3 linked regions of the Homo sapiens genome follow. The protein of the gene in region 1 interacts with the protein of each later gene in a pairwise test. Each region holds a gene or a part of one and is shown on either strand. Other genes may lie near its edges. The genes, in order: DDX6, BEND7 and JUP.

Evidence for each region.
Region 2: the proteins of DDX6 (region 1) and BEND7 interact in binary tests that used the Homo sapiens proteins (3 or more experiments, as listed by UniProt).
Region 3: the proteins of DDX6 (region 1) and JUP interact in binary tests that used the Homo sapiens proteins (3 or more experiments, as listed by UniProt).

Annotation. Positions count from the first base shown.
Region 1 is NC_000011.10:118,749,457-118,753,206, reverse strand, and holds part of DDX6 (probable ATP-dependent RNA helicase DDX6), read left to right. Parts: intron 1-1,109; 3' UTR 1,110-3,750.
Region 2 is NC_000010.11:13,522,269-13,526,018, reverse strand, and holds part of BEND7 (BEN domain-containing protein 7), read left to right. Parts: intron 1-3,750.
Region 3 is NC_000017.11:41,779,972-41,783,721, forward strand, and holds part of JUP (junction plakoglobin), read right to left. Parts: intron 1-3,750. UniProt on the Homo sapiens protein: Common junctional plaque protein. The membrane-associated plaques are architectural elements in an important strategic position to influence the arrangement and function of both the cytoskeleton and the cells within the tissue.

The sequences.
Region 1 (3,750 bases):
GATACAGAAAATTAGCCAGGCATGGTGGCGGGCGCCTGTAATCCCAGCTAGTCAGGAGGCTGAGGCAGGAGAATCTCTTGAACCTGGGAGGCAGAGGTTGCAGTGAGCCGAGGTCATGCCATTGCACTCGAGCCTGGGCGATAAGAGTGAAACTCTGCCTCATATATAAATAACCCACTCTGATTTCCTAGGTAATAAGAGTGAAACTCCGTCAAATACATAAATAAAATACCCACTCTGATTTCCTGGACAACCTGTCTTCCCATCTTTTTTTTATTTTTATTAAGATGGGATCTCACTATGTTGCCCCGGCTGGTTTCAAACTCCTGGGTTCAAATGATCCTCCCACTTTGGCTTCCCAGAGTGCTGGGATTATAGGTGTGAGCCACCACGCCCTGCCTCTATCATCTTTTGGTGACTATTGGGCTCTAGTTAGAAATGCATGAAACAAGGCTCAGCTTTAAGCAAGGTAGGTTGTTTCAGTATTTCCTAAAGAAAATCTGATTTGACAAAGGATAGTTTCCAAGTTATAGGTGAACATCTTACCTATTTAAGTAACCTAATGTTACTTAAATTTTTTTTCTCTTTCTTTTTTAAATAGAGACGAGGATTTACCATGTTGGCCAGGCTGGTCTCAAACTCCTGACCTCAGGTGATCCGCCCACCTCAGCCTCCCAGAGTGCTGAGATTACTGGCAGGAGCCACCTCACCCAACCAATTGTTACTTAAATAATTTTTAAATTACTCTGTACTCTTTTTTTCCTTAAGTTAAACATCAAACACAAACTCTTGGACAAGCATGAAACTAGCCAATGTTTGCTAGTACTTTGGCAGAGTATTCAGTTTGTGTAAGGTTAATTTTTTTCCCCCGGATTTGTTACGAGTGAGGGCTGCCTGCTATCAGAACATTCACATTCATTCAGGCCCCCAATCTATCTCAGGGTTGCCTACCAGAAATTATTTAATCCTATAACCAGTAGATTCTATAGTAGGCACAGGGTTAGTAGAAACTACTAGAAAAGAGCATTTGGGATGAGGATTGTGAAAACCTATGTATCCTAGTTTGTGTTGCTTTCAGAATGTTAATTTTGTATTCTCTTCTTCTGTAGGCTTTGACAAATTACAAAAGGCTCGTTTGGATCTGTGACACATCGTTTTGGGGGGAATGCTCCTCTCTTTGTGGGTTTTTCATCTTTTATTTTGGAACTATGAAGACTTAAAAGAGCTCAGACATTTTCTTTTTTTAACTGGTGAAGAGAAAAAGGCTGAAAAGAAGGAATATACCTTTTTTGTTCCACTTGTTTGCACTGTGTGCTGACTGAACATTAGTTGCACTAACTGCTGGTTTTTAAAAAATGTTTTCTGGGGAAAGGGGACAAGGAAGGAAAAGAAAGAAGAGAAGGGGAGAAACCCTAAAAAGAGAAGAATCTTAATGAACACACAAGCTTGTCAATGATTTCAAAATTCTCCAACAGCTGACTCTCGTGCATTTCAACTTCTCCCTGATTCCTCATCCGTTTTTTAAGCCTGAAGAGCTTATTACTTATTTGTGCGAAGTGCCTTATGCTATGAGACCATTCAGAATATCATCTTTTAGACACAGCCCGAGGAATCAACAATAGTAACTCTTTCTTTCCGTTTTTTTTTCTTTTTCTTTTAAAAAATGTCTTCTTATTTTGGTTTCAGGTTGAAGTCTCTTCCCTTTCTACCCAGTACTCGAGCCCAGGGCTAGAAGTTGAAACTCACTAGTAATGTTAAACACCATTTTTTTTTTCTTTTTGGGGAGGAGTTGATATGCAACTGCAGTTCATCCGCACTGTAAATACATGTATTTAAAAAAACAATCCCAAGTAAAAATTTCTTCTGGGCTGAGTAGATAAAAAACATCATCGCTCCCAAAGGAAAGAGCAGTCTATCATTGCAGGAGCCATATGACAAGCCTTTGTGCTCTATAGCAGACACTAAAGACTGGGTTACATATGCCTCCAGTAGTAGTATGGCACTTGATGTGTAGACATGTCAGAGCCTTGGCCCTCTTTCCTCTGTGGCAAAGCGTGTCCCATAGAAAATTGGGTGTGTATACTTGTATAACTTTGTAAATAAGTTTTTTTTCTGGGTTCATATATATATATATATATACATATATATATATTTTTTTTTGGATGAAGGTTGCTGGGATTAAGGGGATTAGAGTGATTATGGGAGCAGCTAAAGATGAGAGGGGCTCAGTTTTACGCAACACTAAATTCTAGAAAGTACTTTGGCCTCGTGCTGTAGAGAGCAGATTTCTATGGTACCCTGTGTTAGTAAAGGGGCCCAGAAATCTGGGATGTACTGTTTGCTGCCACACTGTCTCATCTAGTACCTTTGGAGTAGGTTTACCAGAGAGAGCAAGGAAGCTTCAAAACATTGATAATTCAACATTTATTTTGAGAAGCTCTGATTTTGCTTCTTCCCCCTTTCTAAAAGTTTGAGGAATATTTCAAGCTCTGCAACAGGGGGCAAAGATTAATCTACCTTGCAGTGTAGGAATTCTATTGAGTGGCAGTGTCATTGAGCAGTATATATATAAAGCACAGATTTGCATTTCAGAATATTAGCCAGTACCAGCTTTGGTAATGTTAGCAGTTCTGGAGCTTAATTTTCTGTGGATCATTTCCTGTAGTGTGTAAATGTGTTGCCCTCTGCCCGCTTTGATACATAAACTTTTGCAGGAATGGGCAACCTGAGAGCTGTTAACTTTCATGCTACAGAAAGCTGCTTGCCATTCTCTTGCATTGTGACAAGAATTGTTACCTGTCATTTTGCACTGTAAATTGCTGGCAGATGCTTTACAGTCAATAGTGTTGCTTTAAATTGTGCCCCTCCCAACATGCTTGATGTTTGGCCTGATCTCCAGGCAAAAGGAGTGAGATGAATCAAAACCAGTGAACTTTTTTTTTTAATGTTTTTAATTCCCTTTTAACCCAGTGTACTAGGTCAATCAGGAGGCATCTGGAAAGGGGGGGAAAAAAGCAAAAAACAAAATTAAAAAAAATTGATTTCCATATTTTATTTTTCAAAACCCTAAAATATTACAAAATAAGTCCCGCATATACTTTAATGTTTTAACTCTTTTGGACAAAGGAATCAATTACTTGAAGTTGCTTTTTTGACTCTGCCTACTTCTGAGCAAACTATTTGCGACTCACCCACAATTCCTTGGAGATCAAAATCCTACAGATGCCTCCTGATGGGACATAGCCCTAACTCCTTAACAACTGTAGCAAGAACTGCACGGTACAAACCCAAAAAAGAACAAGCTCATCTATTTGGAACCCAAGCCTCATATTTTCTGTCCAGTCAATGTTGGTTACTAAATAGAAAACCTAATTAAGGAAGTAACTTTTTTCCAGGGAGGGGTGGGAGAGGGAATTTAAAAGGTGTCAACTTTTGACCAAAAAAATTGTGCCCTTGTACCGATGCAGCTCTCTTTCTCCCCCACCTCTTGCGAGATAAGAGGGATCATTCATGTAGAAGAAAAGAGTATAAATGCAATTCTGTATCTCGCTAGAGAACGTGTGGGTGACTAAACAAAAAGTGCAGTCTCCTTCACCAACTTTAGACTGCGTGGTGCCACATGCCTGTGGGTCCCTCTTAAAGCACAGACTTAAAATGGAAAGTATTACTGAAGTATAGCCTCTAATGAGGAGTGGCACTTAAACTATCTGGGACACCACTACTGGACACGGTCTTGTAGAGGCAGCTGTC
Region 2 (3,750 bases), on another chromosome or scaffold:
TTTCAAGACCTTTTATTTTACAGATTGCCAATATATCCCTTATTAACATTGCTAAAAGTTGTAATTTCAGACATAAATGTTTATTAGTGTCTACACACAGTGCTAATTATCACTCACTCACAGAGCCAGATGCTGACTGTGCAGTTTTGTGGCTCTGCGCTCACCCCATTTACATTGCATATTCGTTGGCATGCTTCACTGGCAATAGTTTGTGTAATTGGGGTATTACATCTTTGACATCTGGATAACAGAAATTCAATTTCCAGGAAGCTGCTATTTGTTTGGTTTTGCTTCTGCCTTGGGTGGGATAGAGGATTAATGTGCTGTCTTATAATGTCCCTTCACCTCTGTGGCCCAGTTGCTAATCCTGCCATGACAAAATTAAATTAAATCTACAGTCAAAAAGCATAAGGAAAATAAAAGTGTGACTGTCTGCCTAACCAGCTCTTGATAGTGCTAGTTATCATCAAGCAGCTCCTCATTTTCCTGACTTTGTGCTCCTTTCACACCAGCATTTTGGGACAGGGGGAACAGCATGCTTTCCTCTTACCATCCTTGTTCCCAGCTCACGTCAGGGATGAGCAGAGCTAAAACAGCATTTCTGAGACTTTCCAGCAAGTGTAGCTGCATGATGGGTGGGTAGGTAGCCACAAACATTGCCACCTTTTCCATGTGCAGTGTTGGTGCAAATACTGTACAGGAAAGACTTTGGATGTGCAGTTTTTTATTTGCACACAATCAGCCAAAAATGAAACCACGTAAGATTTTGCCTCTAAGAGTGAAGTACCCATAAGGTCAGGGTGGAGAGTAGATGGTGGCGTTGGGCCTCAACCTTGTCCATCTTGGACCTCTGCAATCCCAGGTAGCAGGGTGAGGGCACAGCACTGCACAGCAAGGAAGCAGAACATGAGAGAGGTCAGAGCGAGAACGATTACAAGCAAAGCCACAATTACCCCATCAAGGGGGACTTCAGGTAGCAGGACTGCTGCTCAGACCCGGTGTGGGTCAGCCTTCAAACGAAGCTCTCGCCAGGATCTCTCTGGTTTTGCTTTGAGGGATAGAAAGGGTGGGTCGGGATGCATTGGGAAGAAGTCAAATATTAATATATACTTTAAGAGGAAAAATAGGAGGGAAATGTCAGCATTTCTTACATGAGCGATCATTGATAGCACATAGATCTTTCTGCTGAGGGAAAGAATATCACTGGGGCCAGCACTGCTCCCAGTACCTGTTTACTGTTAAGAGAGCTAGGAGCCAAAAGGTTAATAATCAAGTGAAATGCTGTGGCCCAGAAAGAGAATATTCTTGGATTCTAGTCTTTCCAGTCCCCTAAACTTGGTCAGTTGGAATTCTTTTTTTTTTTTTTTTTTTTTTGAGACGGAGGTTCACTCTTTTTATCCAGGCTGGAGTGCAATGGCATGATCTCGGCTCACTGCAACCCCTGCCTCCCAGGTTCAGGCGATTCTCCTGCCTCAGCCTCCTGAGTAGCTGGGATTACAAGCACCTGCCACCACGCTTGGCTAATTTTTTGTATTTTTAGTAGAGACAGAGTTTTACCATGTTGGCCAGGCTGGTCTCAAACTCCTGACCTCAGGTGATCCACCTGCCTCAGCCTCCCAAAGTGCTGGGATTACAGGCGTGAGCCACCGTGCCTGGTTGGTCAGCTGGAATTTTGTATTATCAAAGTACCACTCTATATAGCCATTCGAAATAACGAATTTACCCTTTAGTAGAAAATTTACGTTCACCATACAAAGGGAACATCATGTCCTTGATTTAGTTCTCCAGCAAGGCAGGCTTTCCCGCACTTTCTGTTGTGTACTACTAGAAAAGTGGTAAGGTCACTACGAAGGAAGTGAATTGTAAGGATAAGAGAGGGGAAGCTGAAGAGCAACAGGATGCTAGTGCCCAGGATTCAGTAAGCTGGAAACTCCCAGAGATGATAGACGTTGTTGCTTTTCTTCTTCCTAGTCCAAGTTGAGGAAGATGCAAGAATTCCAATGAAGGACCAGGCTTGAGATAGATACGCTTTCAAAGTGGTTGCTCCAGAAGGCCTTCAACATCAAGAGACAAAAGATTGAACAGCCTGGGAGTGTGCTGTGGGTTATTTTCAATCTTTTGCTCATTCTTGGGTCATCATGTAGTTGGTTCCCAAATAACATTTTTATTTTGTGATCTCTAGGTCAGTTAAGAAAAAATAACAGAAATTGTCACAGCAACATGATTTCTGGAGCAATTGAGAATAGTTACTGATGGCATCTGAGAGTAGGAATTTTTTGTTGACAGTGTTATAGTTTATAGTTTTATAGTTACACTTTTCAAAACATAAAGATTTCAATTATGTTTATTTTATAAATTGCTAAAGCCTGTCCATAAAGATGTAGAATTATATGGGAAGCTTATGACATCCAAGGGGGTTTGGTACCAAAATACTAGAACTCTTTCCCCTATAACAAAGTACTGACACACTGTCCCAGGGATGGTCTATAGGATTTTCTACATTCAAACATATGTGTTCCCTTTAATAGTATCTGCATCTATAAGATCAAAGTTTATGTTCTAGGTGAAAAAGAGTCTTCTAGAATGTGGCAGAGGTTCCCACATCAAGTCTACCTCTCTGGAACATGTTTAGGCTGTTAACGAACGTAGTGTATCTCACATGGTAGGGTAGCTCAGTAGTGTAAATGGCTTGGCCTCGTGCTTTAGGAATTACTCACATATTTTTAATTGGATAATAGGGTCAGAAGACGTTACTTTACCCTGTGGACATTGACTTTCTCAAGCTGGCTGTGATGGGACTACAGTGAAGATTTAAGCACTGTTTGAAAGGAAACAGTTCTCTTAAATCAGTTCAGCCAGTGTCTTTATAGAAGATACTCTGAACTCAGCACTTTTCTGGAATGGGAGTGGGGTCAGAGATAGTCACAGAAATGGATAGGACAGGGACCTTGTTCTCAGGGATTCAGATCCAGCTGGGGAGGAGACAGGACAAATTCAGGAAACGGAGCAGTATTCAGCAATCGTAAGAGCTACAGTTGTTTGAGCACTTAACTGTGTGCAAGGCAGCACACTGAGCACTTTACATGAAAGACCTGATTTGCTCTTTGCAGCATGTCTGTATGAGTTACCGTCATCCCCATTTTGTAGATGAGCCTAGAGATGTCGAGGTGACCTGCCCAAGGTCTCTCAAGTAGGAAGTGCCACAGGTAGGGTTCCAGTGCAGGTCTGTCTGAGCTTTGAACACTCCACTTAACCGCCTGTCTGTGAACGGTAATTAAATGACAAATGTGAATGATCAGGGCAACAGCAAATGCAGAGTTGGAAGGGGTAGAGGGGAGGGCTCTGCAAAGCAGAGATGTTGAACTACAGGAAAGATTCGCTCCTGTATTTCTCCTCCCTGGAGAAGATTCCAGGTGGGAAGGGTGAGGGAGCCGCCAATAAGCATCATTATAGCTCGACCATGAGTGTTGCACTTATGGTTTAGAAAGTGCTTTCACATCTGTCTTCTCGGGATTTTTACCATATACCTGTGGGGTAGTCAGGGCAGATATAATGATTCCTATAATGATGGGAACCGAAGCTCAGTTACCTGACCTCACGAATAGCAGAGGCCGGAGTAAACCCAGGCCTCCTCTCAAAAGATCTTTCCCCTCTGCCCTGTGGAGCCAGGCAAAGCCAAGGCTCATGGAGGAGGCCTTAGCTGCTAGCAGGGCACTTTTAGAAGGATTTTAATGAGACAATTAATTTATT
Region 3 (3,750 bases), on another chromosome or scaffold:
GCCAGATATTACCTTCTCAATCAAGGAAGAGGAGGAGTCTCCCCTAAATAAGCAGCTTATTGATTGCCAAGCCCCTGTCCCAACTCTGCTCTGGTCCCTGCTACTGTCTCCATGGTAGGGAAAGACACAGAAAGCTGAGCTTCAGCTGGGCATGGTGGCTCATGCCCATAATCCCAGCACTTTGGGAGGCTGAGATGGGACAAATGCTTGAGCTCAGGAGTCCAAGACCAGCCTGGGCAACATAGCAAGACCCTGTCTCTACACAAAACTTTAAAAATTAGCTGGGCATGGTGGTGCACACCTGTGGACCCAGCTACTTGGGAGGCTGGGCGGGAGGATTGCTTGAACCCAGGAATTCAAGGATGCAGTGAGCTGTGATCACGCCACTGCACTCTAGCCTAAGGGACAGAGCGAGTCCCTACCTCAAAAAAAGGAAAGAAGGCCGGGCGCAGTGGCTCACGCCTGTAATCCCAGCACTTTGGGAGGCTGAGGTGGGTGGATCACTTGAGGTCAGGAATTCAAGACCAGCCTGGCCAACATAGTGACACCCCCATCTCTACTAAAAATACAAAAATTAGCTGGGCATGGTGGCGCATGCCTGTAGTCCCAGCTACTTAGGAGGATGAGGCAGGAGAATTGCTTGAACCTAGGAGGCAGAGGTTGCAGTGAGCCAAGACTGCACTACTGCACTCCAGCCTGGGCGACAGAGCAGGACTCCATCTCAAAAAACAAACCAAAAAAAAAAAAGAAAGAAAAGAGAAGAGGAGAAGGGAGGAGGAAAGAAAGCTGAGTGCCAAAAGCGGTGGCTCACGCTTATAATCCCAGCATGTCGGGAGGCCAAGGTGAGTGGATCACCTGAGGTCAGGAGTTCAAGACCAGCCTGACCAATATGGTGAAACCCCGTCTCTACTAAAAATACAAAAATTAGGCCGGGCACAGTGGCTCACGCCTGTAATCCCAGCACTTTGGGAGGCCGAGGCGGGTGGATCATGAGGTCAGGAGATCGAGACCATCCTGGCAAACACAGTGAAACCCCGTCTCTACTAAAAACACAAAAAAATTAGCCAGGCGTGGTGGCGGGCGCCTGTAGTCCCAGCTACTCGGGAGGCTAAGGCAGGAGAATGGTGTGAACCCAGGGGGCGGAGCTTGCAGCGAGCGGAGATCGTGCCACTGCACTCCAGCCTGGGCGACAGAGTGAGTGAGACTCCGTCTCAAAAAAAAAAAAAAAAAAAAATTAGCTGGGCGTACTGGCAGGCGCTTGTAGTCCCAGCTACGCGGGAGGCTGAGACAGGAGAATCACCTGAACCCGGGAGATGGAGGTTGCAGTGAGCCAAGATTGTGCCACTACACTCCAGTCTGGGTGACAGAGTGAGAGACTCCATCTCAAAAAAAAAAAAAGAAAGAAAGAAAGAGAAAAAGAAAGCTGAGCTTCCTGCTCTGCTGGCCCCAAAGGCCAAGATGCCAGGAGGCTGAGCAAAGGAGAGTGGTCCATGAGCTTGCCCTTCAGGCCTGGCAGAGGAAGTCGCTTCACAATAAGATATTCCATGTCCCCAGACTCAACCATGTCCCAGGAGAGGCCGCTCAGTGTCACTTGCAGGAACACAAGCCCTGGTGACCTGCCCAGCCACACTGCTTGCTTTTCCTCTTCACAGGGGTCACAGGACCAGCTCACAGATGCCTTTCCCTCTCACTGCCAGGTCGCTCTTCTCCCAAAAGATACAAATGAGGAGTCTCCCCAAAGGGCAGCAATTCCTGTCTGGCCTCCCTGCCGCACAGGATGGCCCTCATCAGAGAAGAGTCAATGCTGAGTCTCCACCTCTCCCTCTTATTTCTCAACTCAAGATTTCATCTTTAGCAGGCAGAAAGCCCCTCCTCCTGTCTAGACTGCGTCCCTTCAGTAAGTGCATCGGGCCTGCAGCTCTCAAGTCCTCGGGGGAGATGGAAAAACTGCAACCTCATGCCCTCTTTGTAGTAGTCAGTGGGATGGGGTTCATTCTGTTTTCTTCTCTGTCTCAAGTCCCATTAGCCTTCTCCACGATCAATAATCCCGTTGCCTGGGGTCCCCGCCTGCCCTCAGGGAATCCAGAAGCGCGGTAGTGACAGGTTCAGTACTCCGGCTGCACCATCACATAAAGAGAACCCATTTCCCAGACCCCAAATCCAGGCCCATTCTGGTGTCAGATGTCCAGTTGGCAGAGACACCAGAACCAGGCAGGTCTGGAGAACAATCTGACACCAGCTCCTCCCTAGAGGGCCAAGGCTCTGGCTGACAGGCAGCACACATGACCCCCACCTCCATCACCAGAAAAGCCCTCCCAGCAGCTGCCTATCTCAGGTCTCTTGGGCTTCAGAGCAGAGGACAGCCAGTTCCCCATCAAGAGCAGCCTGGCAGCACTGCCTCGTCAACTCCAGCAGGACATTAGCCCAGGCCTAAATCGGACTCTCGTTTCTCGCCAATCCCCACAGGGCAGCACCCCTTTATCTTGGCATAGCCCCAGCCCCCAGCAAAGCAGGCAACTCCCACTTCCTACACATGAACAAGCCCAGAACAGCCATGGTTCTACCTAACCCAAGCTAGGAGGCAGCACAGCTTTGACCCCTGCCTCCTCTTTCCCTCTCAACCTCCCCCCAACACTCACCACAGCCCTGGCCTTGGGGAGAAGCCGCTTCCACCGGAAACTAAAAATCAAGCCACTGGGGAGATTTAAGTGGGCTGGTGGCCAGGACAGGTATCACCCCCACCTACAAAACCTGCCCTACATTCACCACTCACACATGCCTTCATGGGCCCTTCTGAATTCTCTTCTCCCCAGTCAGGCAGAGGCTCTCAAAAGGGGGTGCAGAAAAATCCTTTCCGCTCACACCTGTAATCCCAGCACTTTGGGAGGCTGAGGCGGGCGGATCTCCTGAAGGTCAGGAGTTCGAGACCATCCTGACCAACATGGTGAAACCCCATCTCTACTAAAAATACAAAAATTAGCCTAGTGTGGTGGTGCATGCCTGTAATCCCAGCTACTCGGGAGGCTGAGACAGGAGAATCGCTTGAACCCAGGAGGTAGACGTTACAGTGAGCCGAGATCGCGCCACTGCACTCCAGCCTGGGTGGCAGAGCGTGACTCCATCTCAAAAAAAAAAAAAAAATCCTTTCCAGAGCTGCATGGGGCAATACAGCAGGATGGGTTCTGGGCTTGGAATCAGAGGACCCAAACGTCAGTCTTGGTGCTGCTTGGGTCTCGCTGTACAACATTGGGGAAATTACTTAAGTTCCTTGAGTTTCAATTTCCTCCTCTGTAGAATGCGAATAATGATACGCGTTTTTTTTGTTTTTTTTTTTTTTTTGAGTCAGGGACTCACTCTGTTGCCCAGGCTGGAATACAGTGACACAGCTCACTGCAGCCTTGACTTCCCTGGGCTCAGGTAATCCTCCCACCTCAACATTCCCAGTAGCTGGGACCACAGGCATGCACCACCACGCCCGGCTAATTTTTCTATTTTTTTGTAGAGACAGGGTTTCTCCATGTTGCCCAGGCTGGTCTGGAACTCCTGGGCTCAATCAAGCAGTCCACCCTTCTGGGCCTCCTAACGTGCTGGGATTGCAGGTCTGAGCCATCCAGCCTGGCCAGCCATAAGGATTAAGTAAAAATAGTTAATGAAAGTGCTTGGTTTGGGCCAGGTGAGGTGGCTCACGCCTGTAATCCCAGCACTTTGGGAGGCCGGGGCGGGCGAATCACGAGGTCAGGAGATCAAGAC